Regions from separate parts of the Homo sapiens genome. Here region 2 is linked to region 1. The links come from fine-mapping of genetic effects on gene expression. A gene starts in region 1. The other region holds a variant in brackets. All regions are shown on one strand. Distances are between the middles of the regions. Region 1 holds the start of ITGB1BP1 (integrin subunit beta 1 binding protein 1). Region 2 overlaps ADAM17 (ADAM metallopeptidase domain 17).

Region 1 (11,484 bases):
ACTACTGTGTCGTTTTTTGCCCTTGCGAAACATTTTTCACCACCATTGCTTGATCCAGAGAAGATCCCCTGAAAAAACAAATATTGGTAACAGTTACATCGGGAAAAGCAACTTTTTTTTTTTTTTTTTTAAGAGACAGAGTCTTGCTCTTACCCAGGCTGGAGTGCAGTGGCACAAACATGGCTCTGCAGTCTTGACCTCACACCTCAGCCTCCCCGAGTAGCTGGGACTACAGGCATGTGCCACTACACCCAGCTAATTTCATTTTTTGTAGAGACAGGATCTTGCCATGTTGGCCAGGCTGGTCTCAAACTCCTGCTCTCAGGCGATCCTCCCGCCTTGGCCTCCCAAAGTGCTGGGATTACAGCTGTGAGCCACCATGCCCAGCCAGGAAAAGCAACTTTGATATTGGTTACAGTTACATCAGGAAATGCAACATTAAATCACTTTATGCAAAATAGAAATAAAAATCATCAATTAACTTTTCCCTTGGATACTATTCCTTTTCATTCTTTCCTATTAAATTATAGAAAGTTAACCCAATAAGCAAAAAAGGCAGAAACCTTCTTGTCCTACAGGTGTGAAAAGCACTTTTCTCAAAATTTTCAGACACGTCACCTAGTTCTCAAAATTTTAAGGGCCTTACTTCTCTTCAATTGAGTCAAGATTTTAGCAAAATATACTATGACACATTGGCTTTTCAGTCGAGATACTAAGATTCAGTAACCCTCTCAGTTTCACATTCTATACTTGGTAGGGCTAAGATATACACACCTCTCAGAAATGTGCATTTTTCTTGAAGTTTTGAAATACCTTTAAGTAAAAGCTGACACAAAGACATTCCCAGGTGCCAGCACCTCACCTCCCCTCTCTATTAAGCGTAGTTAAGGAGATGACCTTGCCTCCCAGAGTCTGTGTTACATATTTCTTTTTTTGAAATTAATAATAATAAATGCATTGGAAACTAAGATTCATCCTTGCCAGTTGCATAAGGACAGCATATACTATACTTGGCAAATTAACTAACCTACATGAAGCTGCACAGCTCACAGAACTCCCGGGACAGTTCTACTGTCATAGCCTCATGATAACCTTGTGACATATCCATTTGCTCTACTGATGCTTTTTAAGGGCATACCATATGCCACACACTCTGCAGGGCTCTAAGCTCTCCCTCAAGGGGCTCACAGAAGGTGGGCTGTAATCTGCCTTTTACAGATGAGGGAACTGTGACCTGCCTCTCAAGACGATTTATGAATAAGATAACCTGATCAATTTTTTACCAAAAACTGTATTCTCCAGAGAGAACAAGAAAATCTGCTTACTATAGAATTGAACACTATTTGACTGTCTTCAAAGGTCCCACATACAGCGGTCTGCACAGAGAGTTTCCTTTCATTCTGACCTGGGTGATGCTTTTCAGAGAAACTACGCACCTGATGAAGGAAAAAGAACGAGCAACTCACGCAGCAGTCAGTGAAAGCTCCTGCTGCAACCCAAAGATTCTCCGTATTTGGAGACCCCACTCTAAGTCCACTTACTAGGGGACGACATTAGGCCACTTGCCCAAGTCTGACCACTGAGCCCAAGCTTTTTAATCAGCCTCATCATCCAATTTACTTCTATATTTTTGCTTTATTTGTGGGGTACCAGGAAAATCTGATTTATTCATTCATTCCTGGATAGTCAGTGAGCACCTACCAGGTGTCGGGGATGCATCAGTGAACCAAACAGAGCCCCTGACCTCAGGGAGCCTGTTCTTAGCGAGAGTAGACAGACCAACAAGAAAAACACACATGAAACATATTATTAGGAAACCACTGCTATGAGGAAAACTAACACAAGTTGAGGAGACACAGACTAATGGAAGGAAGGGGTGGGTATTTCAGAAAAAGATGCTGTAGCTCTTTTTCTGAAAGAAGTGCGGGCAGCCATAAATAGCCTGGAGGCAATGCCGTGCGGGTGGAGAGGGGCCCGAGGGAACAGTCAAGGCTGTCCGGGAGCAGGAGGACAGCAATGGGCCCAAAGTGCCACAGAAGGCCAGGCAGGCCGCGGTAACAGTGGACTTTAGTTTAAGAGGAATACTCTGAAGGCTTTTTATTTATTTTTTGCTTATCTGCTGTGATCTTCTGGAATGGAGGCTTTTAAAAAGCAGTTTAGCGACACAATCAGGTGTCTTCTGTTTTTTAAACGATGACCCTGGCTGCCAGATAGCGAACTAACTCCACTGGATAAGGGTAAAAAGTGAGAGATGTGTTGGAAGAAGACTGCGGGTGATTGCTGCAAAGGGGAACCTTACCAGCACAGGACACTTGTCAGTGAGAGATGGCAGGAGAGCCTTATTCCAAGGCCTGCACGAAACTAGGTTAACGTAGCAGCATAAAGTGCCATGTTAATGGCGCTCACGGGTTAAAATGTTGATGTGTAACATATTTAAACATCAGATACTTAAGTATATATAAATACATATTTATATATAGGTAACAATTTTAAATATGATTTGAATTTTAAATCAAAACTTATTTTAAAAACAAAATGTGATTCTACTGTCAGTGGAATCCTGAAGTGTCTCCTCAAATCCCTTGATATGAAAATCATGACACGACAATGCCTTAGCAACTCCTTAAGGCTTTCTTTTCATCATCAACCCAGCGGCTTAGGAAAAAGCAGCATTTATTAAAGTCTTTGATATCTGCTGCAATTTTGATGCATGTTCTCAAGCAAATCATTCTTGCCTCAAAATTATTCATGGGTGGCTCACGCCTGTAATCCCAGCACTTTGGGAGGCCAAGTCGGGCGGATCACGAGGTCAGGAGATCGAGACCATCCTGGCTAACATGGTGAAACCCCGTCTCTACTAAAAATACAAAAAATTGGCTGTGCGTGGTGGTGGGCGCCTGTAGTCCCAGCTACTCAGGAGCCTGAGGCAGGAGAATGGCGTGAACCCGGGAGGCGGAGCTTGCAGTGAGCCGAGATCGCGCCACTGCACTCCAGCCTGGACGAAAGAGCGAGACTCCGTCTCAAAAAAAAAAAAAAAAAATTATTCATGCATCAAAATGAGGCCAATGATCCTGATTGGCGATTGGATGCTCCGCAGGCTCATCAAATGCAAAGATGTCTCAAGCTGAACCCATCATCCTCCCCTCCAGATCTGCTCCTCTCCTCTCCTCTCCCTGTCAGGAGATTCTATTATTGCTGGAGGAAGCCAGAAAATCATGATTTCCTTGCTGTCCTTCAGGCCCCACATCCAATCTGGCACCAAGACCCACTGTATACCCCACCTGAAGAGCTCTCTGAGCCAGCTCTCCACCAGGGCCCCCGTCATCCTAAACCATGGGCACAGACACTATTTTTTTAGAAACTGATGAATGTGATGGATCCTCACCCTATAAAAATGCACATCCATACAAAGTTTGGCATGAATTTAAGGAATTCACAAACCCAAGGATATTTCGTGGATAAGGGACCTTGTCCTACTGGATTCCCTAACACTTTAAATCTACCCCCACACTGCAGCCAAAACGATTAAAATGATTTCTTTCAAACATGAATCTAATGCCACTAGCCTGCTGAAAATCTTTCACTGGTTCTCCAAAGTCAGAGACCAAAGTCAACGTTCTTCAGCACGACACGCCAGGTCCTCCAGGACCCAGCTCCTAATCACCTTTCCACTTCCATCCTCCACAACCCGGGCACAGTTCATTGATCTCAGCAAGGCAAAGCTGCTCCTGGTTCTCAGCGCGATGCTCCACGCGCCCCTGCTTTGCACCGCCCGGGACGTCCTTCACCTGTCAGGCACTTGGCTACTTCTTACCTTTCAAGGCCCGTTTCAGGCTGCAGGCCTTCCTGGGATCTCAAGGCTGGGGTAAGGGACCCACAGCTTGAGTGTACCCCCTGATCACAGCGCCACGATCTGCTGTGGTCTCTGATCTCACTCTCCCAGCTGCACGCTGGTCAAAGGCGGAGCTCGGTGACTCCTCTGCATTGCCAGGGCGCCTGGCAGGGGACGCGCTTACTGAAGCCGAGAACTTTCTGGGGAGGTGACACCCCAACAGCGATTCCCATGTACCAAACGCCTACCACGTGCCATGCACGGTGCTAGGTGCACAGATCCCTCTCACCCTCACCCTCACCGACCAGCAAGGCTGCAGGATAACAGCCCCTTTCAAACGAGGATGCCAAAGCGCCCGAAGAGTCAGTGACCTGCCCAGGGTCACCAGAGTAAGGACGGATGCGGCCAAGCTCGGGGCCTAGGGAGAGCCGGCTCCGAAGTTCCTCCCAGACGCCAGCCTGCTTGGCACCTGTCTGTCACCGTGATGGAGCACCTTCCAAGCGCTGGGTGCGGAGGATGTGACAGCGAAGGGGACAGACAACCCCGACCCTGAGAGGCGGGAGGCGGCCGAAGCGGGGCAGAGGAAGAGGCAAGGAAACGGCCCGCGGCCGCCCGCCTTGCCGCCCCTCCGGGGCGACAGCGGCTCGGGAAGCTGCAGTCCGCAAGCCCACGCCCGATCTGCGTGGTTCCAAGCTCCTCCACCCGCGCCCCGGGAGCGCGGCCCCGCCCGGAACCAAGCCCGAGCCCAGGCATCCCTCCTCCGCCCGCCCCGCGGCCCCACCCATCCTTCCTGGCCGTCCGCGCCGCTCTCGGGACCGTGTTCCCGTCAGGCCTCCGCGAGCTCGGCCCCAAGCGGGACGAGGGCTGGGCGCTCACCTCGCAGCCGCGGGCCCATCCCCGGGTTGCGGACTTCGGGGTCCGCGTGGGAGTGCCGCGGCCTTTGGCGCCCAGGCAGCTACTCCCGTTCCCGCTCCAGCGCCGGCTTTTCCAGCCCTCCTGCCCACGTCCGCCGGGCCGCGCCTCCAAGACTATGCGCAGGCGCAGTCCTGACGTCCTACCCCCGGTTCCAAGACCCCAAGTGGTGGGAAGCCTCGCGAGCGGCGTCCCCCGACCGGAAGTCGAGGGGAGGAGTCTAGTGCCGCGGGCTCCGGAGTGACGGAAGTTGTGCTCTTGGTGAATGGGGTTCTTCCTTTTTTATTTACCGGTGGCTGTGCTTCCAATTTAGGAAGACCCCGGCGACCTGTTCCTCACCCCCGCTTCGCCCTCACACTTTCGGGATGTCTGCGATTCCTGCTGAGGAGAGCGACCAGCTGCTGATCCGACCCCTGTAAGGGACCAGCGAGAGAGGGAATGAAGCCACGGGCTGTGAGGGGCGCGAGGGGTAACCGGAGACTGGCCTCCTCCGTCGCCCGCGCTCCCACCTACCCCGGCAGCCTGCCTTTGGTCCGCGCTTGCGGGCCAGGCTTCTCAGGCTCGAGGGGTTGGAGGACCGTTGATCGGAAGGGGCCTGCTATAGAGTGAACGGGATTTTGCTTTTTCATCAGTTTCAGGGGAGGGTATGTTGGAGTCGGAAAAAAAAAAGTTTTACGGGGCCACCGCTCGCTTTCGTACACGCTAAGAAGCGTTTTCACTTAGCACAAGCACGGATCTCTGCGCGTCAGGGCAAGCTGTGAGGGAGCCGGTGAAGCTTATGACCGACAGGATGAGAGGAGGACCTGAATGAGGCTACAGCCGTGCAGGGAAGAATTAAGTCTGTTTCTTAACACCAGGGCTTCACATGTGCCAGAAGTTAGAAAATATTAGGGACTTGCCGTGAGTTTCGATCTTCTCAGCTCAGGCCCTAGTAGAATAAGGAAGGTGTAAAGCTGGAGAAGAGAAAGTGCAGAGGTGTTAGGGACAAAAACTCAGCCCTCGACTGTCCATAAGGAGAGTGGCCTTTCAGTGGACACGATCCTCATCAGTCGGGAATGCTGCTGAAGGGGAGATGCAAATGTAGAGAACTTGAATTCCTACAGATGAGCATTTCGAACCCACAACATGTTTATTGTTAGATACTAGTTGGCACAACATGAATATACGCTTTCCAAAAGGTAGAAAGTATCTCCTTTACACAATCATTCAGTAAGGCTTCATTGAGCACCTGCTTGGGACATAGTCCGTTTCCTTCTGCTTAGTTCACACCTGTCATGTCTTCCTGTGATGAGCAAACACTGAGCAAGTGTCAAGCACCACACATGGGGATATAGACGCAACAGAGGGCCCAGTTAATTGCTCTCGCTCTTTTGGAGAGAATTACAGTGCACAGTGGGAAATATTGGAGAGATACTTTGGAATAATAGGAGACTATTACTTTGAAGTCAGACCTGAAGTCCATTATCTACTTGACCAATTAGTAGGACAACAATCTCACTGAACCCGTTTTCTCATATGGAAATAAGATAAAACTTGAAGAGTGAACATCGCGGTAGGTGCTTTGTAAATAATAGCTAATCTAAGAACGCAGGCAGGCATTGCACTGAGCACTGTGAAAGTATGGAAAAGGGATTTCTGACAGATTGAGGAAAAAAGGATACCTCGTGGATCCTGAAAAATGTGATGCCTGAGCTGAGTCCTAAAGAATGAGTAGGAGTTAAAGACTGGGGGGCCCAGGATGTTCTAGGCAGTGGAAGTGGCACATATGAAAGTGAGAGTGGTCACAGCTTGTGGCCAGATTCCTCATGGCTGTAGCTAAAGAGTTGAGTTAGCAGATGAAGCGACAGGCAGTTGAGGTCCAGTTTAGGAAGCACCTCGTATACACAGGAGTTTGGACCTTTATCAAGTCAATTACAGGGAGCCAGCGAAGGCTATTAAGCAAGCATGGATATTGTGGGAATTATGTTTTAGGAAAATCTCTCCTGGCAGCAGTGTAGCAGATGAATAAAAGCATGGATGAATAAAAGCATGGATTGAGTAGAGCAGATTCAGTGAGATATTGAAAGATTCTAAGTCTAGCTGACGAGAGCCTGTAGTGAGTGATGTGAGTGTGAGAGAGTATGCAAATGAGATCTTCAGGATTTTGTGGCTGATCAGCTGTATCTGGAAGGGTGGTTGTGGGGAGGGAAGGCAGGGCAGAGAGGATGTTATGATCAGATTCCTAAGTTTGGCAGTTGGGAAAGGGTAGTGTTATTCACTCAAGGAGTATAAGAGATGGGGCAACTCTGGAGTAAATTTGGGAATTTGGTTGTTTCGTAACAGCTTTATTGAGATACAGTTTACATACCATACAACTCACAATTTACATACCATACAACTCATTTAAAGAGTATAATTCAGTCGTTCTTAACATAGAGTTATACAACCATCACCTCTCTCTAATTCCAGCACATTTTCATCACTCCCAAGAGATACCTTGTATTCATTAGCAGTCATAGACAATCCCCACTACCTCTCCAGCCCTAAGCAACCACTAATCTACTTCTTTATAGATTTGCCTGTTCTGGACATTTCATGTAAGTGTGATCATACAATACATACTCTTTTGTCTCTGGCATCTTTCATTTAGCATAATCTTTCCAAGGTTCAAAATTGAGGAGTTTTGTTCATTCAATAAGTATTTTTTGTGATGTGCTACATGCCAGGTACTGTAGCAATACAGCAGTGAATAAGATGGACAATGCCTCTGTTCTTAGGAAGCTTTCATTTAGTAGCCTGAAAGAAGACATAAGTAGGTACAATAACTTCATGTAGTTGTATTAAGATAACTGATGCTGGGTTGTGGCTTGCTGTGAAGGGCAAATTAGAGGAGGTAGTCAAGGGAAAGCATCTGAGAAGGTGACGTTGGAACTGAGACCCAAATGATACAAAGGAGCCAACCACATCAATATCTGAAGACAAAGCATTTCAGGAAGAAAGTAGAGCAAGTACGGGGCATGTGGTGGAAACTAGTTTGGCATCTTGAATATGAAGTCCCGGGAGAGATCCTAGTAGAGATACCTAGTGTCACGTGTATGTATTAAAGGTCTAGAATTCAGAAGAACAATCTGGGTTACAAATACAGGCTTGGAAGTCCTTAGCATGTCAGAAAGATGAGAATGAAGATTGAGAAGTTGGCCAAGGAGCAAACCCTCGGAATATCAACATTTAAAGGGTAGGCAGAGGTGGCTGAATATGTGAAGGAAACAGGAAAGCCAGCAAGACAAGATGAGAGCATCAGGTCAGAGAAGCCAAGGGAGAGGTGCTTGAGGAAGGAGCAGGTACTCCTTAGGAGTGACAACGGCTGCCAAGAGAACAAGATAGGGACTGACACCTATAGTTCCAGCTACTTGGGAGGCTGAGGCGGGAGGATCACTTGAGCCCAGGAGTTGAAGGCCAGACTGGGCAACATAGGGGGACCTTGTCTCAAAAAAAAAAAAAAGACTGAAATGACTACTGAGCAGCAAGGACAGTTTCAGAAAAGTGATTGGTAAAAGCCAGAGTATAGCGAATTGAGGAGCGAGTAGAAGGTGAGGAAGTACAAGAGGGTCCACTGCCCTGGGAGGTGGTCTGGGGAAAGAATAAAGTGGGAACTAAAGGAGCTTAGAGTCAAGGGATTTTAATTTGGGGATGAACATGGCTGTAGTATGTTTAAATTTGGATTGGATGGTAAAGAGCAGACAGTGAGGAAAATGTCAATGACACAGCAGTGTTGAGTTCCTCAGAAGGAGGGAGGGAGTACGTAGAGTAGAATGGTGGAAAGTTTCATTGTGGAAAGAGAGGTCTATTCTATCTATAGAGGAGAAATAGAAGGAGACAGATGTGGGCAGGTTGGTACCCTGTTGGTACATGTATTCTTAATTATTGTACCAACATGAAGTTGAGGAAATTTACAAATGGACTGTTTATTTTTTTGATGCAGAAGATGGCCCATGCCTCAAGTGAAGAAGAGGATAGAAGGTTGGAAAATTTGGGAAAGGGAAGAAAGTTTGAAAATAGTTGATATGGAAATGAAATGGAGAAAACAGCCAGGCAACATTGAGGGCCAGTTAAAGTGGAAGGCCAGGGTATCCACAATAATTACAAATAAAAAATGTTTAAAAAGTGGAAGGCCAGGAATTTATGGCGGCTCTCATCCACAGTTGTTTGATCTTCTGTATCAACACCTGTTTGGAGGTAGGATCTCAGTTTGGGGATAGATCCATTGCATGTCCATCTGACTGAGTTCCTTGAGGTCAGGGTCCCTGTAAGGCATTTCCATGTCCTAGGCACTTAATCCAGTGCTTGGCAAATAGAAGCTGCTTAATGTTGAGTGAGTGAGTGGATTGTGAGCTAGAATGGTTGGGAAAAGGCATCAAAGAAGGTGAGGGATTTGAAAGATGAGGTTTAACTTAAAGTGTGCCTTGTGACCATTGCAAATTATGGCTGAAATTATTAAGAAGAAACAAAAATTATGTAAGTAGTTGGTATAAAATATGCTGAAATAACAGAAAGTAGAAGAAAAAGTGATTGAAATTCACAGTATGAATAAGTATTTTAAAAAAAAAAATTTTTTTTTTTTTTTTTTGAGGCAGAGTCTCGCTCTGTTGCCCAGGCTGGAGCGCAGTGGCGCGATCTCAGCTCACTGCAAGCTCCGCCTCCTGGGTTCACACCATTCTCCTGCCTCAGCCTCCCGAGTAGCTGGGACTACAGGTGTCCGCCACCACGCCTGGCTAATTTTTTGTATTTTTAGTAGAGACGGGGTTTCACCGTGTTAGCCAGGATGGGTCTCGATATCCTGATCTCGTGATCTGCCTGCCTCGGCCTCCCAAAGTGCTGGGATTACAGGCGTGAGCCACCGCACCCGGCCATTTAAATTTAAGCCATTTGGCAAATACACATTATGATCTTAAAGAAGATGACAGTGTTGAAATGCTTATGGCTTTCTACTTAAGTGCTAATTCTAGAAGTATTATTATATAATCTGCGTAACTGCTAGTTTACATTTTAAATACATTATAATTTAATCCTAAAATTCAGAAAATTGAATTTAAATCAAGCCCAAACCTTTGGGCTTCTTGGATCTGTACCGCCTTCTCTCTTAATTTTAAGAACTGCAAGATCCCTGGACTCCCAAGGATCAGTTTTCATCTGTTCTCATGTGGACACTGTTCTTCCCTGTCTTTGTGATTTTGTAGAACTCTCTTACGTCTCAGAATTTTTCAGTGAGGTGCTGTCATCAGATGGCATGTAGTGTACATTGTAAAAAAGTGTAAGTTTATTGGACTTGGTTTTGATTTTTTTTAATCCTTCTTTTTCTCCCCTTGAATATTTACAGTGGAGCTGGGCAAGAAGTAGGAAGATCATGTATTATTCTCGAGTTCAAAGGAAGAAAAATAATGGTAATTACTATTTTTGTACTCAGTTTAATAGTATGGCTCTGTCTGTATTGGGTGTTAGTCTTTTCTCATAGACTAGTTATCTTTTTAGCTCCCAGAAAAATGTTATAGTACATGTAATCTATGCTGTATAGTGTTAATGAGAAAAACTAATACACACTTCTACTTAGTAATTTAGTTGATTAAGAAGATATATTCTATGACTGTAAAATTGTCAGCTAGATCTGTTGAACTGTTACCTCTTCAAAGTCCCTCTTCCACTCCTGAAGGGTTGAGCCAGCCTAACTGCCCCACCCCCAGTGGAAGATCCCAAGGGCCCAAGCACTCTGAACACACTGAGAGCTCTAGCCGCCTCCAGCATGTGGGGATCAAGCCTTGGCCTAGAAGCTTGGATCCCCAGGTCCCACTGGGGCTGCCGGCCTTGGCCAAGTCACTTTGCTTCTCTAAGCCTGAAAGGTAGAGGGGTTAGAGGAGATAGTTTCTAAGGTACTCATTAGAAAGTCAGTTCTGTGTCTCAGATTCCTTTGATTCCTCTTTCTTCTCAACTCCTCCCAATCTGAAAAGAACATGTATAGGTCAGACATAGTCATCCTTTTAGTCATCTGTTTTGTTAATTTGGTAGTAACGCCATAAAAATAAGTAACTTTAATGACTGAGTCTTAAGAATTTGTTCCCTAATGCCTTAAAATATTTAAATTACCCTGATCAGGTAAGTTTCCCATTTCTAATTATTATCTTCTCACGAGAGTCGATCTGGTAGTAGTAAATCTATAAACTTTTAAAATTTTAATCTGATATCAAAGTTTTTGAAAAAGATTTAATTCGTTGTTAGAATGACGACCAAAAGTAGCTGGAAAGAAGCTGTTTTGTACTTTGCATCCTGTGACCCCTAAATGTGAGCTATATTTTAAATTTGTTGGGAAGTTAGAATTGTTAATGGCATATTTGCCACATTTAATAAGAATCATGTTCCAAGTGCTAGTGCCTGGAGTCCATCTTGAGTATATGGGTGATGGAACTAGAATTATTGCCTATTTGCCGAATGAATTTTAATAAAATGTGCAGGAGATTGTGATCTCTTTTCCTGTTTCTTTCAGCTCGACTGTGGGATCCACCCTGGCCTAGAAGGAATGGATGCTCTTCCTTATATTGATTTAATTGACCCAGCTGAGATTGATCTCCTATTAATTAGTCAGTAAGTTTTTCCCTTTATTAATGACACTTTTTCACGGACTTTTACTATCAAGATCATTCTTTACTAGATTTTGAGAGTTTGGTTTTTTAAAAGAGTGTTTTCTGCTAGGAAGCATATTGCAGACATCT
Region 2 (16,886 bases), 74 kb after region 1:
GAGTCTGTGCTGGGGTCTTCCTGGATGGTGTCCATTCTCTGGTGGTCCAGTTTTGGAGCTGCTGGCGCCGAAGGGATCACAGGGGCAGGCTGCAGGCGGCCTGGAGTCTGGGGCGCAGGAAAGGGTTTGATAATGCGAACCGATGCAGAATCCATGCTGCTCAGCATTTCGACGTTCTGCAAAGACATGGGTTCAATTGATTGATAGGAATAAAAGATGAATCGGAGGTCCTCACAGCTCCACCCTTACCCATCAAACAGCCTCTTATTCTGTTGGCACTGTGATGCTAAGAAAAAAGTGCTAGGTGAGGCTCACTCAACCTAAGTGACTAAAAAATACTAGGTTGGTGCAAAAGTAATTAATGCCATTACTTTTAATGGCAAAAACAGTAATTACTAGCTTTCAAGCATCCTGAAAACTTACTTACCATTTGAAGACCCAAAAGAGGATTCAAACCTCTCAAGGTAAGATCCCAAGAGAGAAATTGAACTCAAAATATTAACTAAGTGTTGAATGGCTAAATCACTCCTTATGGCTTGGGAAGGGGACAGCACAGCTCTTTAAATGTCCATCCATGCAACTAATCGAAGTTCACCATCACTGTTGTCAGAAGGGTAAACATTCCAACCTAGACCCTTCCTGCTGCAACATGACCTTCCATCAGCCAGTGAAAGCTCTTGCTGGGTCAGGTGAAGGTCTTTGCCTAACAGGGCCTCAGACCAGGCGAAGATTATGTTTCTTTCATATGGTATACTTACACTGGGGTGAAACAGAGACAGAGATTCATACTGTTTATCCAATTTCTTATCCTAGAAAGAAACAGCAAGAAGGTCATTCCCTACAAATACAATTCAGTTAGTGAGTACTATTTCATCACAGGCTATTCCTAACACTAACTGAAGAACTTAGAACCTGAGTTGTAGAAAGTGATAGCAGGCTCAACAGATGACAATCCATTTCTCACCCAAGCTTTAGTTATGCCACCAGTCTAGAAGTGTTTCCTTTGCACTCAAAGGAAATACATTTTGGCGTTAAGTACAGAAAGAGGCAAGGTTTAAGTGCTATGTTTTCTGAGAAATTTATCCCTCTGTGGGCAGGGGAATAATAAAGGCATCTTCCTGTGCATGAAATGACAAATGTCCCAGATGCTGGGTACACCAGGACCGCACTGACTGGAAGGGCAACTGGTAGGAAGACCCAGGTGGCTGGGCCTGCAGCATTCTTCGCACTGCCCCGGCCCATGGCCTCACTCTCTTAGCTGTCTCCACAGTTTCTGTGGACCATGCTCTGCTGGAGGAACTGGGCCTCAATCCCTACATCCTACTTCTGCAGAAGGCTAACCACATGGCCATCTGCTGCCCCATCCCTGCCTGTGGCTGAAGCATAATAGGTGACAGAGGGCAAGGACCAAGAATCCAGGACTAGGCTTCCTGTCTGGGTGCCATCAATGCATTCTATGACCAAAAACAAGCCATGGCCCTCCCTCCTATCGGAGGCTTTGCTCTGAAATCAAGGGTCGTGCCTTGTCCACATGTGCAACTTCCCTGTAAACAAAATAGGTTCCATCCTCCAATAGAAGCAATCGTGATGGATGGCACTGTCATCCAGAGACATCTGTCAAAGCTTCAAGCACGTCACCTTCAGCTTTCTTCAGCACAAGTGCTCCCTAGAGATCTTCCTATACCCATCATGCTCACCACCCTGAGGAAGAGCTGCTCTGTGAGATGGCCCCTAGGCAGGAGAAGCCAGCAGGAAAGGAAAGGAAGGAGGCAGTAGGAAAAACTCCTTTGTCATCAGAGTTGTGCTGGAATTTTTAAATGCTCATAGGAAGGCCACTATGAAAGAGTTTGGGAAAACAAGTCTGGAAGCCTGGGTGTGACTTTCTCATCTCTACAGCAGACAAATCCCCATTCCCCACAGATGCAAGTGAATGGATTCGTAAGAACATTTATGAAAAAGGGCCTCAAATTTATAAAGGACCAGGAGTTCCTTAGTCAAAGCCCAATTCAACTTGTAGCTGTTACTGATTCTGAATGAGAACAGAAAAGACTGCTTACTCTTATTTTTTGGGGAAGATGTAAATACTCTATATGACAGCTGGGCCCCAGTCCCTACATCCTATTTGTGCAGAAGGCTGAAGACATAGCCATCTGCTGCCAATAATCTACATGATATATGGGGAACATCTGAAATGCCGATGTTTGATATTTGCTCTATTGCAACGAAGTCAGCCTGAAAATGCTCTTCAATAAGGGCTTTACTCATCAAAGGACCTGGACAAATCCAGTTAAACAGTCTCCTATGCTTAAAAGTATAAAATTCCTAAGAAATTTATATATTAAAACACCAACACACAAAAATAGTATTTTTTTTAAAAGACCATTAGTTAAGCTTTCTACAAGACATGTTCCCCTAGGAATAACAACAAAAAAAGCTATTGGAAATATCAGGCCAAACTTTGCTAAGAACAAGTTTTACCTTTTCCAGAGATTACATGGTTGGAGTTGATCAAAATTTAAATAAAACATTTAATTACTTAAAAGTTGATGACTTACCACACAATGGACAAGAATGCTGAAAGGAATCCAAAATATCAAGGAGAAAACCAGGACAGACCCAACGATGTTGTCTGCTAAAAACTTTCCTGTGAACAATTCCAAACAGTTAATGTCTTGACCAAGTACTTCACAAATCTAAAGTGAAATGCTCTTAGGATATTACCATTGTGTCAAATGCCAGAGCTGCTGGCTAGACATACTACCGAGAGCAGAATGTCTGTGCTGCCTGTATTACACCACACCATCTCTCCATACCAAGTGCTTTTAAAGAAATAGCCCTCATATACTGGCTGACAGGAAGAGATTGCAGAATATTCAACATGTTACCTGGAGTAGCTGTGTCAACAGATTAATATGGAATGCTACTACTAGTAAATGCTTAAGAAGACAAAGTTTTTGTTACCTGGATATTATTTTTGTGATTAAATTATGGACTCGTGACAACATGATATACCCTGCTTCTGCAAAATATGAGGCTCACTTTTACATCAAGCAGGATTCAGTATATAGCATTCAGTCAAATAAACACTCTTACATCAATCAGGATTCAGTCTATAGCATTAAACTATGCTTATGCTAATCACATGGATATTTTTGGGTAAAGAAGGAAGCCAGTATTTTGACTTTATTTCCCTTGTCAGAAAATCTGTGCATCCAAGCTCCACGGGGACAGACTATCTATGAGTTCATTTTATTCTAGCCAACAAAGTTGTTTCATAACTAAAGCTGTGAATAGTTCCACCTTCTACTGCAGAATTAAAGCACATCACTCTGAAAGCACACTTTTCTAATGTCATCACAGAAATTGACTCAGCTCTCAGTAAGTAATCTGGGGAAATCACCTACCAAAAGTATTGATGCTCAGCTGGTCAATGAAATCCCAAAATCGTTCAATTACATCCTGTACTCGTTTCTCACATTTGCCCTATGAAGAAAAAACATACATACAGCATCATTCCCAAACACAATGTATTCAGAAGCAATGTAGCTTTATAAAAATAACTGACATGTAAAGGGCTTCATTAAAATCAAACGTTTTCCCATCTTTGACACAAGGCAATAACTTCCGCGTAATGAGTACCCAAGAAAGTAGAACATCTGTCATTAACACTTTCATAATTACTCCATTTTTACAAGTGATTTAGAATTACCAGGAGACAAAAATCAAGGAAACCAGTTTGCTAAAGATGAGGCATTCCAGTAAGGACTCTACACATACACAGTGGACAGTGAACAACACAGCCAGACTCCCTGTGAAGCCTCGTAAATCTTAAAACCCTCTCCCATCATTCTGCATGAGAAAAATTATGCTTCTCTAGAGAACAAAAGGGTCTGGCTTAAGTAAGTCAAGCAGCCTTCTAGGTCTTTCCTACTCATTCAGCACCTGTTTCAAAATCACACCCTGAATAATTTTGCAATCTTAGTCAGTTCTGTAAGTAATCTAGGAAAACATAATTAGGACCCACTGCCTGAAACCAACCAACTTTACCATAAAGTCCCCACCCCAGTCCTTCTCAGTCTCTGGGCTCAAAGCCTCCCACCACAGAAGGAAACTACAGGCAGGGACCTGAAAGCACTCCGTCTTCTCCTCCTAAGTAATACCCGTAGATAACAATGGGCCAGAAGGATGTAGCCCCACTTGTGTTTTGATTTGTTTTCATCTGCAAAATCAAGTACTTACAAAATAAAAACTTCCTATCTGGCTGTTACAGAAAAAGCTGTACATAAATACTCACATTCATGTCACAAAATCCTACTGTACAGGGCTTTCCTTTCCTCAAAAATAAGTTCTTTTGTTCAGCATCGACATAGGGCACACAGCGGCCAGAAAGGTCCCTGCAGCACACCTTGCAGGAGTTGTCAGTTTCTGGAACAGAGAACACGCATTGACAGCTGGATTGTTCTGAGACCTGCCTCTCCTCCTGCCTCCTCTTTCCTCCCTGACCATGCTCCCAAAGAGGTAAGAAATCACATTTATTTTTTATTTAAATAGCTAATACTATCCATAGCCCCCACCAAGGAGTAGTTTCTGAGGTCACACTCCTCAGCCTTCAGTGACAGAGGCCACAAGGTTTAAAAAAAAATGCAGAGAAAAATCCATTCTAGATTCAAGACCTCTCTTCAAAGTCTAACTATTCTCTCCCCTTCAAGCCCCTCACAATGCTCTTCTAAATGCTTCCCTTTGTCCCAACTTTCTTGTCACCCTGCTGACTTCAATCCTTGGTTTTTCAGTCTAAAGTGTGCCCCTCAGGGCCCACACTGGCTCCCTGAAAGCGAGAGCAGCTGGGACACAACTGTCCACCCTTGGGTGGGGAGCTCAGTGACCCCAGGAGCATGAGCCCTGCAGCCAAAGCTCCACAACTCCTCCCAAGAACAGCTCTGACAGGTCACAGGATAAAACACCGGGCATCTGTGAGCCATGTGGGCATACATAAGAATGGCAGAAATGCCAGAAAATTAAACCATACTTAGGAGAAAAAGAAATCAACTAGAACACAAAAACAAGCAAAAAGAAAACCTTTTCAGAAAAGGCCGGGAGCAGTGGCTCTC[G/A]CTTGTAATCCCAGCACTTTGGGAGGCCAAGGCGGACAGATCACTTGAGGCCAGGAGTTCGAGAACAGCCTGGCCAACATGGCAAGACCCCATCTCTACTAAAAATAAAAAAAATTAGCCAGATGTGGTGGTGCTTGCCTGTAGTCCCAGCTACTCAGGAGGCTGAGGCACGAGAATCACTTGAACCCGGGAGGCGGAGGCTGCGGTGACCTGAGATCGCGCCACTGCACTCCAGCCTGGGCGAGAGTGAGACTCCATCTCAAAAAAAAAAAAAGAAAACCTTTTCATCATTCACTAATTTATAAAATATTTCTTGGACTTTTACTGTGTCGGGCTCTGTCCTTCCAGAGCACCCCAAGCCTCTTGGCATTCAACACAACAGATTTATTTGGCATCTGCTACGTGTTACCTTTTTTTTTTTTTTTTTTAAGAGGTGAGGTTTCACAATGTTGCCCAGGCTGGTCTCAAACAACTCCTGAGCTCAAGTGATCCACCCACCTTGGCCTCCCAAAGTGCTGGGATTATAGATGTGAGACACTGCCCTCAACCTATCTTCTTTACCTACACATTATTGAACTTGGAAGAGTTCCTCACTCCACTGTATGGATGGTGAGCTTCCAACCCAGTGATTTTATTTAACTACCGGGTTCTTTGTCTTTTATTTATTTTATTTTTTACTTATTTATTTATTTATTTGAAATGGAGTCTCGCTCTGTTGCCCAGGCTAGAGTGTAGCGGCGCAATCTCAGCTCACAGCAACCTCCGCCCCCTGGGTTCAAGCAATTCTCCTGCCTCAGCCTCCCTAGCAGCTGGGATTACAGGTGTACGCTACCACACCCGGCTAATTTTTTTTATTTTTAGTAGAGACAGCGTTTTGCCATGTTGACCAAGCTGCTCTCAAACTCCTGACCTCAAGTGATCTGCCCACCTCGGCCTCCCAAAGTGATGGGATTACAGGTGTGAGTCACCACACCTGGCTCTCTGTCTATTTTGAAAGCAAGAGAACTCCCTCATCGACTCCCATGGTTTAAGTGGGGTGGGAAGCAGAGTCCAGCCAGTCCCTGACCAGTCCATGAGGATGCCCTCAAACCCAGGGGTTCCAAAATAGCACAGAAACCTAAGGAAAACTGACAGGCCAGCAGGAGAGAGGCTCCTGCCCCAGGCTGCTCTAAGAGATCAGAGGGGAGCAGACCCAGCCTTCTTGATAACTGCAAAAATCCTCATCTAGTGGGGTTAGGTCCTGGAATCAGCTCTCTCTGGTGGAGTTGTTGCAGGAGTATCCTAGTTCCATGCCAATGTAATGTAGATAGCTACTGCTGCTTTTGTGGTTTGTATGATATGGAGCAGAGGAAGGCTAGGACACACCTCTACCTACCCACCCACTCACCCCCAACAAAATTCCCTCCTCTCCCACCTCAAAGCCTGCCATATGGCCTGAAACTGCAGCAAGAAGAAACACCAACAGGATAGGTCTCCCAGGTATGGTGGATCTGCATGCAGAGATGCCTGTCTCCAGACACCACCCTGCCCTTCCCCATCCCCTCATCCTCGGCTTGGATCTCACCACTGCTGTCATTCGCACAACCTCCAAATGGAGGAAGGGAGCCTGGCAGACAAAGGCCATGTTTTCTCCTGCTGCTGGACTGGGAATAAAACTGCTCACCATTACATGCACAGGACTCCAGCTGCTGTTCCCTCTCGCAGAAAGGGATGCATTTCCCATCCTTACACTTGCCAAGATCCAAGCAAACAGTGTCATCTTCAGCATTTCCTGGAGGCGGGCACTCACTGCTATTACCTGGAAGCAAACACCAGTCATAACAAAAAGAATGAGTCACAGGTCCACCAGTTCTACAGGTGCATAATACGCTGTTTCTCATACAAGTGAGCATCTTACCTTGCAAAAGCAAAAAGTGACCTACAGAGCTAGGACAAGAGCCTGCATCTCACCAGCAATCAGCATTTAAATGGGAGTGCCTGGCTATGTGCCAGGCTAGGCTGCATGAGTCCCTGGCCTCCCAAGCCCCAGTTAGAATGCATGGTCTCCACTTCTGCATCTCACAGTCATATATAAAAGAATATCCTATGTGCTATTACTTAGAATAAATTGCAAACTTTGTATGAAGGCTTAAAAGAACTCCACGGCCTTCCCTATCTGGCCCTGACTTCATCGCACACAACTCTCCCACAGCCCACTGCTTTGGCTATGACAACCTCCATTCAGTTCCTTCAATATTAACAGATACTATTCCTTCTACCTGGAATGCTGGTGTTTCCACTCTTTTGGGGCAATTAGCTGGCTTTTCTTATGGATTAAGTTTTGTCTCAAAGGTTTTCTGAGATATCCCTGAGGATGCTAAGTTGATGTGGCCTCCCACTTCCATTATGCACTATCACACTCCTTCTCTCCTTCATTGCATATGTTTTGCAATTTATATATATATATTTAATGTTATTTTCTGTTTTCCCTCTACTAGACTGGAAAGCCCCATGACAGCAATGATCAAATCTATTAAGTTATCTCCAATCCCTATCATATTATAGGTATACTACAAATATTTCTTAAATAAATCAATTATTCTTTTTATTTTTCTTTTGAGACAGGGTCTCAGTCTGTCACCCAGGCTGGAAGGCAGGGGTGTGATCATAGCTTACTGCAGCCTCAAACTCCTAGGTTCCGGCAATCCTCCTGCCTCAGCCTCACAAGTACCTAGGATTTCAGGCGTACGCCACCATACCTGGCTAATTTTCTTTCTTTTTTTTTGAGAGACGAGATCTCCCTGTGTTGACCATGCTGGTGTAAAACTGCTGGGCTCAAGGGATCCTCCCACCTTGGCCTTCCAAGTGCTGGAATGATAGGCATGAGCCACTGTGCCCAGGCCAATAATGCCAAAGAAAACCCACCAAAGAAAGTTAAACTGGGAGAGACAGGATGGAATGAGTGAATCATTCTGGAAAATGAATAGCACAAGTAGCTAAAAGTCAACACAAATAGAGGAGGAGAAAAAAAACACTTTATGAAAGCAATGGACTATATATCCACAGCTCTGGACTGGCCTTTCAGCTGAAGAATGAAGCCAATCAAAAGAATTCTGACTTAGAGGGTTTCAGAGCAGTAACACAAAATGTACAGAAAATCTGGCCAGTTTCAAACAAAAGTGATGGTTTATTAAGTACCCAACAGATAACCAGGCACTTTGCCTCTGGTTCTCATAAAACCTTTCATGAGCACTGGGCATTCATCATGTCAACAGTCATTTAACAAACTATTACTGAAAGTATGATGTCCAGTGAGCTCAGGGAAGGTTTATATTGTGGATCATTATTGTATTTTTGGTATATGATACTGCCCTGATACATTAAAAAATGCTCAATAAATATCTGTTGAGCATCTGTTCTTAAAAGACTAAAGTCAGAGTATTAGACAGGTAGGAAAATAATTCTGAAAATGGTATCATCTATCTAGCATGGTCCCCAAAGTTTAGCATGCATGGAAATCACCTGACAGAAGGTTACACAGCACAGACTGCTGGCCTCCCTTCCCACATTTTTTGATGCAGTAGATCCAGGGAGGGGACTGACAATTTCCATTTCTAATAAGCTCCCAGGTGATGCTGCTGCTGCTGGTTGTGAAATGCTAATTGCTTTTTTTCTTTCTTCTTCTTTTTTTTTTTTTTTTTTGAGGTTGTTGTTCTCTAGCTTTTCCTGCTAGAAAATACTGATTCCTTATCAGGAACTTATCCTCTGCTATCTACTATTTTGTATAAAATATCAAGGGAACAAAAGGCTGTTTGATAAGAACAAACGTTTTCAAATTGTTTTACTTACGTTTATTTAAAAGAAAGCATTTTTCTCAATCTATTTTATTATTACAGTGAAGATGAAACATTGAGCATAGCTAGCAAATGCTTCTTTAAAGCTTGATTTAGATATTCAGGTTCCTAACATTTGTTTTTTTGGTTTTTTTTTGAGATGGAGTCTTGCTCTGTTGCCCAGGCTGGAGTGCAGTGGCGTGATCTCGGCTCACTGCAAGCTCCGCCTCCCGGGTTCACGCCATTCTCCTGCCTCAGCCTCCCAAGTAGCTGGGACTACAGGCGCCCGCCACCACGCCCAGCTAATTTTTTGTATCTTTTAGTAGACACAGGGTTTCACCGTGTTAGCCAGGATGGTCTCGATCTCCTGATCTCGTGATCTGCCCACCTCGGCCTCCCAAAGTGCTAGGATTACAGGTGTGAGCCACTGTGCCGGGCCATCAGGTTCCTAACATTTGGCAAAGTAATGTGATAGTGACAGATCCCAAAAGATAAAAACATGGGCAACATGTCATACTATGCACACGGAAAACCAAAATCAAGCCAAAATAGGACACAACTTCATTCACTAGGTCCCTGAAGACCTCCAGCTTTCTGTTTGCATCCTTATCACAAAACCTAGGATAGTTACAATAAAAAAGATAACAAGTGTTGGTGAGGATATGGAGAAGCTGGGACCCTCATACAATGCTGCTGAGACTGTAAAATGGTGTAGCCATTTTGGAAAACAGTCTGACAGCTCCTCAAAAGATTAAGCATAGTTACCACATGACCCAGAAATTCTATTCCTGAATAATATCCAAAGGAACTGTCCACACAAAAACTCATAGATAAATGTTCACAGCAGCATTATTTGTTATAGCAAAAAAGTGGAAGCAACCCAAATGTCTATCAACCAATGAATGAATAAACAAAATGTGGCATATCCATGCAATGGAATTTACCCAGCAATAAAAGTACATGAAGTACTGATACATGCTACAACATACATGAACCTTAAAAATGCTATGTTCAGTGAAAGAAGCCAGTCATACAATATGTGGTCACGAAACCATATTGTATAATTCCATTTATATGAAATGTTCAAAACAGACAACTCCATAAAGAATAGGGTGGTTAGTGGTTGCTCTGAGTTGTGGGGAATGGGGGGATTGGAGGATCATAGCTAAAGGATACAGGGTTTCTTTCTGGAGTAATGTAAATGTTCTAAAATTAATTGTGATGACTGCATAAATCTGAATATACTAAAAATCATTAAACTGTACACTTTAAATGGGCAAACTACATGAGTGTGAATTATGTATCAATAAAGCTATTACAAAATCAAACCAACCAACCAAGAGAGACAAATTTTGAAAAATATAAGAATGGGACAGATAGATATATCAGAGGAACAAAAAAACTAGAATAGCAAACTGAATATTGCTTTTTGACAATTTAAGTCAAAAAACATCGCAAGGGTAAAAAAGGAACATTATATACTGGTAAGGAACAGCAGATAAAGATGTAGAGATATGTCCGTTTATATACCTAGTAATAACATAGCTTTGAAATTTTTAAAGCAACAATTGACCGAACAAAAGATACTGGACACCTGGAAAGGTTAGCTCCAGAAAGATTCAAGTCCTGAATGTAAAAGGACAACTTATGAAGCTAATAGAAGCAGCTGTGGAAAATATCTTTTTAACCATCCGCCATGGCTTTTCTGAACCATGTGTTTAAAAAATACACACACACAACAAAATGATGGATTTGATTACGTTAAAGATTTCTGTTCTGAGAATGGCAACAGATAGGAGACGTATGCCCAAATGGATGATTACATAAGAACTCCTCCAAATTCACAGTAGTGAAATAACATGAAACCCAATTTTTAAAAAATGAACCAAATATATGAACTGGCTATTCACAGGAGAAATCTGAATAGCTGAAAAATATAAAGAGATGCTCAAGAAAAATGTAAGTAAGTGCATTAGGACAAGGGCTGTTAAAAAAAAAAGTAAGAACAAGAGATTACTTTATACTCATCATGCTAATAGGACAGCAGGGTAATTCCAAGCGTTGGCCAGAACGTCAGGATAAGGAGTCCTCAGACACAGGCAACCTAGCAGTGGTGCTCTAGAGACCAGCACATCCTGCCTCTGTGACTACACAATGACACTCCTCAGTACCCAGAGAAACACACAGGTTCCTGAAGGGACGTAGGAGGATGTGATCTGTGTCCTATCTGGAATATCAAGGGGATGAAGGCAATGGAAGTAGCTACCACTTGGTGACTTGTAAGTAAAACACAGCCAATCATATAACTAAACAATATGTAGGTGTCCCCAACAGTGAAATACATATAGATACATATAGAAAAACTGGTTACCCTTCTAACTTGTATCCTGCTTCCTCCACACTATTCCAGTGCATAGATTCATGATAACATTCATTATCCCAAGATTGTCATTTTGATTGTTTCCAAAATTTTGCTATTAGGATGTAGCCATTAAAAACCTTGTTATATTATCTGTAGCACAATATGGGTAATTCTTTAAAACATGATACTGAATTTTTTAAAAGTAAATTTAAGGTAGAATATCATTTTGGCACATTAAAAACACATACATGCACAAAATAACACTATATGATCTTTCAAGGATATACACATATCCAGGCAAATATTAACCACAGTAGAGTGGATGTCTGTGAGGAGAAAGAGGAGAGTGATGGAAATGAAAGAGAAATAGAAACAGGTCTTAAACCCACCAAAGCCAAGTGTCACAAACTAAGGAGTGCCAGAAACTCAACCCGGCATATGAGATTAAAAATAAGGTGTCTCTCATCTGAACAAAACATAATCTTGTTTTTCAAAGACACACACACACTTGACCCACAGCATTCCAAGGAAGCAACAAGAACACGAACCTGTGCAGTAGGACACGCCTTTGCAAGTAGCATTAATCGCCTCCTGGCACTTCTTCTGGGCAGTCTCAAACTGACAGTTTTTACAGCAAGGACTGTTCCTGTCACTGGAGAAGAACAGCAGACAGGAACAGAGCAATTCAAATTATGGCCCCATATCAAATCAAACGCTACAGTTACGTTACAGTGACCTGAAGATCACCGGGGAAGACCTCCTGGCTCCGTCACCCACTCCTACATCATCAGACATCTCCGCTGCTAGAGCTACCTGCACACACTTTGTCCCTTCCTAATGTGCGTGAGGTCACATAAATGCCACACTATAGGAGAAAAGAATGGGAACACAGCAATCACCTGTGAAACATCTTGGTGCCCTTGGTTTTCATTCATTTAACGCATTAATTTAAAAAAGACAAGATGGGCTGGGCGAGGTGGCTCACACCTATAATCCCAACCCAACACTTTGGGAGGCCGAGGTGGGTGGATCACCTGAGGTCAGGAGAGTTCGAGATGAGCCTGGCCAACATGGTGAAACCCCATCTCTACTAAAAATACAAAAATTAGCTGGGCGTGGTGGTGCGCTCCTGTAATCCCAGCTACTTAGAAGGCTGAGGCAGGAGAATCGCCTGGACCCCGGAGACAGAGGTTGCAGTGAGCCGAGATCGCACCACTGCACTCCAGCCTAGGCAACAAGAGAGAAATTCTGTCTCAAAAAAAAAAAAAAAAAAAAAAAAGATGAGGCAGGTGGACCACGAGGTTAGGGGTTTGAGACCAGCCTGGCCAACATGGTGAAACTCCGTCTCTACTAAAGATACAAAAAATTAGCCGGGCATGGTGCTACATGCCTGTAATCCCAGCTACTCGGGAGGCTAAGGCAGGAGAATAGCTTGAACCTGGAAGGCAGAGGTTGCGGTGAGCCAAGATCGCGCCACTGCACTCCAGCCTGGTCAACAGGGCGAGACTCTCTCAAAAAAAAAAAAAAAGACAAGGAAAAAAAAAAAAGACAAGGTGGGGCCACAAGGCAATCCATAGCTAAGACACTCGGCAGCCAGAACTCTACTCCCCATCAGTATTTACAGCGTTAATATGCACTGTATCCAGTTAAATCTCAATTATTCACCAGAAAACTGAAGTTTAACCCTTTTACTTCTAAGCCAGGCACTGGTCTATCAGTGTATATAAAAAATGAAAACCTGGGTAACTTTCTAACTTGTAACCTACTTCCTCCACACTATTCCAGTATATAGAATCATGATAACATTCATATCCCAAGACTGTCATTTTGATTGTTTCCAAAATTTTGCTATTAGGATGTAGCCATAAAAAAACCTTGTTAAATCTTATACCCTTGTTAAATCTTATCTCTGTTGCCCAAAAGATTCTTTGGGCAGCCAGGAGCAGTGGCTCACGCCTGTAATCCCAACACTTTGGGAGGCTGAGGCAGGCAGATCACGAAGTCAGGAGTTCGAGACCAGCCTGGCCAACATGGTGAAACCCCATCTCTACTAAAAACACAAAAATTAGCTGGGCGTGGTGGTGCACACTGTAATCCCAGCTACTGGGGAGGCTGAGGCAGGGGAATGGCTTGAACCCAGGAGGCGGAGGTTGCAGTGAGCCAAGATCACGCCACTGCACTCCAGCCTGGGCGACAGAGCAAGACTCCGTCTCAAAAAAAAAAAAAAAGAAATAAAAGATTATTTGGGCCAGGCATGGTGCCTCATACCTAGAATCTCCACACTTTAGGAGGCTTAGAAGGGTGGATCACTTGAGCCCAGGACTTTACAACAAGCTTGGGCAACATGGCAAAACCCCATCTCTATAAAAAATACAAAAAAAATTAGCCAGGTGGCACACACCTGTAGTCCTGTCTATCCGGGAGGCTGAGGTGGAAGGACTGATTGAGCCTGGGAGGTTGAGGCTGCAGTGAGCCATGATCATGCCACTGCACTCCATCTTGGGCAACAGACTGAGACCCTGTCTCAAAAAGAAAATAAAGGCCAGGCACGGTGGCTCCCCTCTGTAATCCCAGCACTTTGGGAGGCCAAGGTGGGCAGATCATGAAGTCAGGAGATCGAGACCATCCTGGCCAACATGCTAAAACTCCGTCTCTACTAAAATACAAAAAATCAGCCAGGCGTGATGGTGCGTACCTGTAGTCCCAGTTATTGGGGAGGCTGAGGCAGGGGAATCGCTTGAACCTGGGAGGCGGAGATTGCAGTGCGCTGAGATCGCGCCACTGCACTCCAGCCTGGCAACAGAGCGAGACGCCGTCTCAAAATAAATAAATAAATTAAATTAAATAAAAAAGATTATTTTGCCAGGCACGGTGCCTCACACCTGTAATCCCAGCACTTTGGGAGGCCAAGGTGGATGGATCACAAGGTCAGGAGTTGGAGACCATCCTGGCCACCGTAGTGAAACCTCGTCTCTACTAATACAAAAAATTAGCCGGGCATGGTGGTGCGTGCCTGTAGTCCCACTACTCAGGAGGCTAAGGCAGGGGAATCACTTGAACCCGGGAGACAAAGATTGCAGTAAGCCAAGATCGCGCCACTGCACTCCAGCCTGGCGACAGAGCAAGACTCTGTCTCAGGAAAAAAAAAAAAAAAAAAGATTCTTTTAACTATAGGACTGCTAAACCAAGGAGCATGCAAGGTCAAGGATTTTGTTACATAATGTCACACTGCTTTCCAGAAAGCTTCTTCTTTTCTTATTTGTTTTTTGTTTTTTAAGAGATAGTGTCTCACTATGTTGCCCAGGCTGTTCTCAAGCATTTCTCCCACCTCAGCCTCCCAGAGTGCTGGGATGACAGGAGTGAGCCACCGTGCCAGGCCCAGAAAGCAATTTCTTGCTGTGAAGGGCAAAAGAGGTAGATGTAAACAAACACACTCACACCCCTTTCAGTTGATTCTAAAGCCCCTGCAAGTTCAGTCTTCTCTTATTTTGGACATCTTGTTATACCAACTTCCCAAAATCCCTGTGGAGAGACTCCTCACCTGCACTGGACACCTTCCTTCAACGTGCAGTCGCTGTTGCAGCAGGTGTCGTTGTTCAGATACATGATGCCAGGATCACACTCTTCTCCTTCATCCACCCTCGAGTTCCCACAAACTTTATTGCTGCGTTCTTGAAAACACTCCTGGGCCTTACTTTCAATGGTCTTATAGATTGATTGTTTACTGCAGTTTGAAAACATCTTGAGAGAAAAAAGGCAATAAGGACCCAAAATAATATCATAAAAATGTATTCCCATGCAATGTTTGTGTCTTCTCTAGAGACAAACTCTTAATGTAAAACCACCATCAGAGCCACCCTGGAGTTATGGCAAGGCCACCACAGTCTCCTCCAAAGGCCACTGATATGGAACTGGGAACCTCCCTCCATAGAATGCTAAATGGCTGATGTGAACTTGGTTAAGGATCTATAATTCTTCTTACGAAGGTAAGCAAGCTATACAAATACTGAGACCAAACATCCCAGTCAAAGCCCACTTAAGGACAAGCAGAATAGCACAACAGAGAGCTCGTAGCTCCATCAGACTTGAAATCTCCTCACCTCAGGCATGCCACTCATGCAGTGACAAGAATTAAGAACCTCTGTAGGTTAATGTTGTCCCAGACAAAACAATTCAGAAATGCAGGAGAAGGGGTTTCTTCTCCTTCTTTGGCTACTTATATGGATGATCCAAGTTTAAAGTTGTTTAAATATTTGAGCTTAGTAATAGGCATAATAGTACATTTTATATAAATTAAATCCCCAATTGTTACCTAAACATTTTCATCAACCAGCAAGACCAGTGTCTCAAAAAGTCTCTACACTACCTTCCCACCCTGGAGTACAGAACCACTAGGATAACTCCCTTTTAAGGCTGAGGGTTTTATCAGGAGCTCTAAAACTGCGGTCATTTTCCAGACCTCCTGAAGTTATCAAAAAAAGAAGAGGCTTAGGGAAAACTGAGCATAGTTACTTCTTAGGTCGGGGTCTCCAAAGTGCTCTGCAGATGCCAAAATGGCTTCACTTTCACCCCAGACAACAATCATGAAGCCCCTGAGAGCCAAGTGTATGAGACCCTCCAAAGGTGCCTGTAACCACCAAATCAGACACCAAAGGAGCTACTTTCAGAAAGATAGCAAAGACCTCATCTTACACAGAAATACTAACTGGCTTTTTAAAAAACATCTTCAAATCTGTTTTTTTTTTTTTTTTTTTTTTTTTTTAGATGGAGTCTTGCTCTGTCACCAGGCTGGACTACAGAGGCACAATCTTGGCTTATTGTAACCTCCGCCTCCCGGGTTCAAGTGATTCTTCTGCCTCAGCCTCCTGAGTAGCTAGGACTACAGGTGCATGCCACCACGCCCAGCTAATTTTTGTATTTTTTGTAGAAACAGGGTTTCACCATGTTGACCAGGATGGTCTCGATCTCTTGACCTCATGATCTGCCCACCTCGGTCTCCAAAGTGCTGGGATTACAGGCGTGAGCCACCGCGCCCGGCCCAAATCTGTCGTTACAGTACAGATGTCTAAGGGGTCTGGTTATTCTAATCGGGGCCTCAGGCAGTTGTCATTTTGGTGGGTTTATTCATCAACATCATGTATCTCTGGGTTCCATTTTATCAGGTTAAAATGGAGTTAAAATTCACAGTGAACAGATAAGAAGACCTCTTCACTGATTTGTCAGAGTTACAACTCCCAAGCAGCTGGAGAGCACTAACGATAAAAGGACCAACCCGCAACTCTGGCTTTCTGCCTACACATCCCTGAAGATCTGGCAGCTTCTGTTTGCATCCTTGTCATAAGACTTCCTCTTCCGTTCAGCAAACCTTCCTAAGAAGTTACAATCTCAAAGGTCCTACATTCCTTTTCACTAATGTCATCTGTCCACAGAGAAGTCCACCTGTGGCAAACTGCTCTTCATAGGCTTGCCTAGTAGAGGGTGATGGGTTCTGTCTTTCTAGGTCAAGGAACTACTTTATTTTTGTCCTGTAAGCCCTTTTCATCAGTTAAAAATATTTTTATTAAGGAATTCATTTAAAACATAGGCTGGGCACAGCAGCTCATG

The links. PIP is the estimated chance that this variant, and not a neighbour inherited with it, causes the effect.
Region 2: its variant is fine-mapped to the expression of ITGB1BP1 in whole blood (TOPMed, PIP 0.92).

Annotation. Positions count from the first base shown.
Region 1 is chr2:9,418,665-9,430,148 of GRCh38, forward strand. ITGB1BP1 (integrin subunit beta 1 binding protein 1) reads right to left here and starts at 4,864. Exons shown (of 7, transcript NM_004763.5): 1 at 4,709-4,864; 2 at 1-68. The coding sequence starts at 33. CPSF3 (cleavage and polyadenylation specific factor 3) reads left to right here and starts at 4,990. Exons shown (of 18, transcript NM_016207.4): 1 at 4,990-5,159; 2 at 10,101-10,164; 3 at 11,259-11,356. The coding sequence starts at 5,110. RefSeq lists enhancers at 3,315-4,173, 4,167-4,216, 5,087-5,136, 5,177-5,226 and a silencer at 4,357-4,656.
Region 2 is chr2:9,490,343-9,507,228 of GRCh38, forward strand. ADAM17 (ADAM metallopeptidase domain 17) reads right to left here. Exons shown (of 19, transcript NM_003183.6): 12 at 14,824-15,023; 13 at 11,831-11,934; 14 at 6,772-6,906; 15 at 4,295-4,425; 16 at 3,405-3,483; 17 at 2,556-2,644; 18 at 759-809; 19 at 1-176. It also overlaps a transcript of IAH1 not described here. Among named protein-coding and RNA genes, the nearest start is that of IAH1, 24 kb to the left of the region's middle. The variant G/A (reference allele first, on the strand shown) is at 5,109.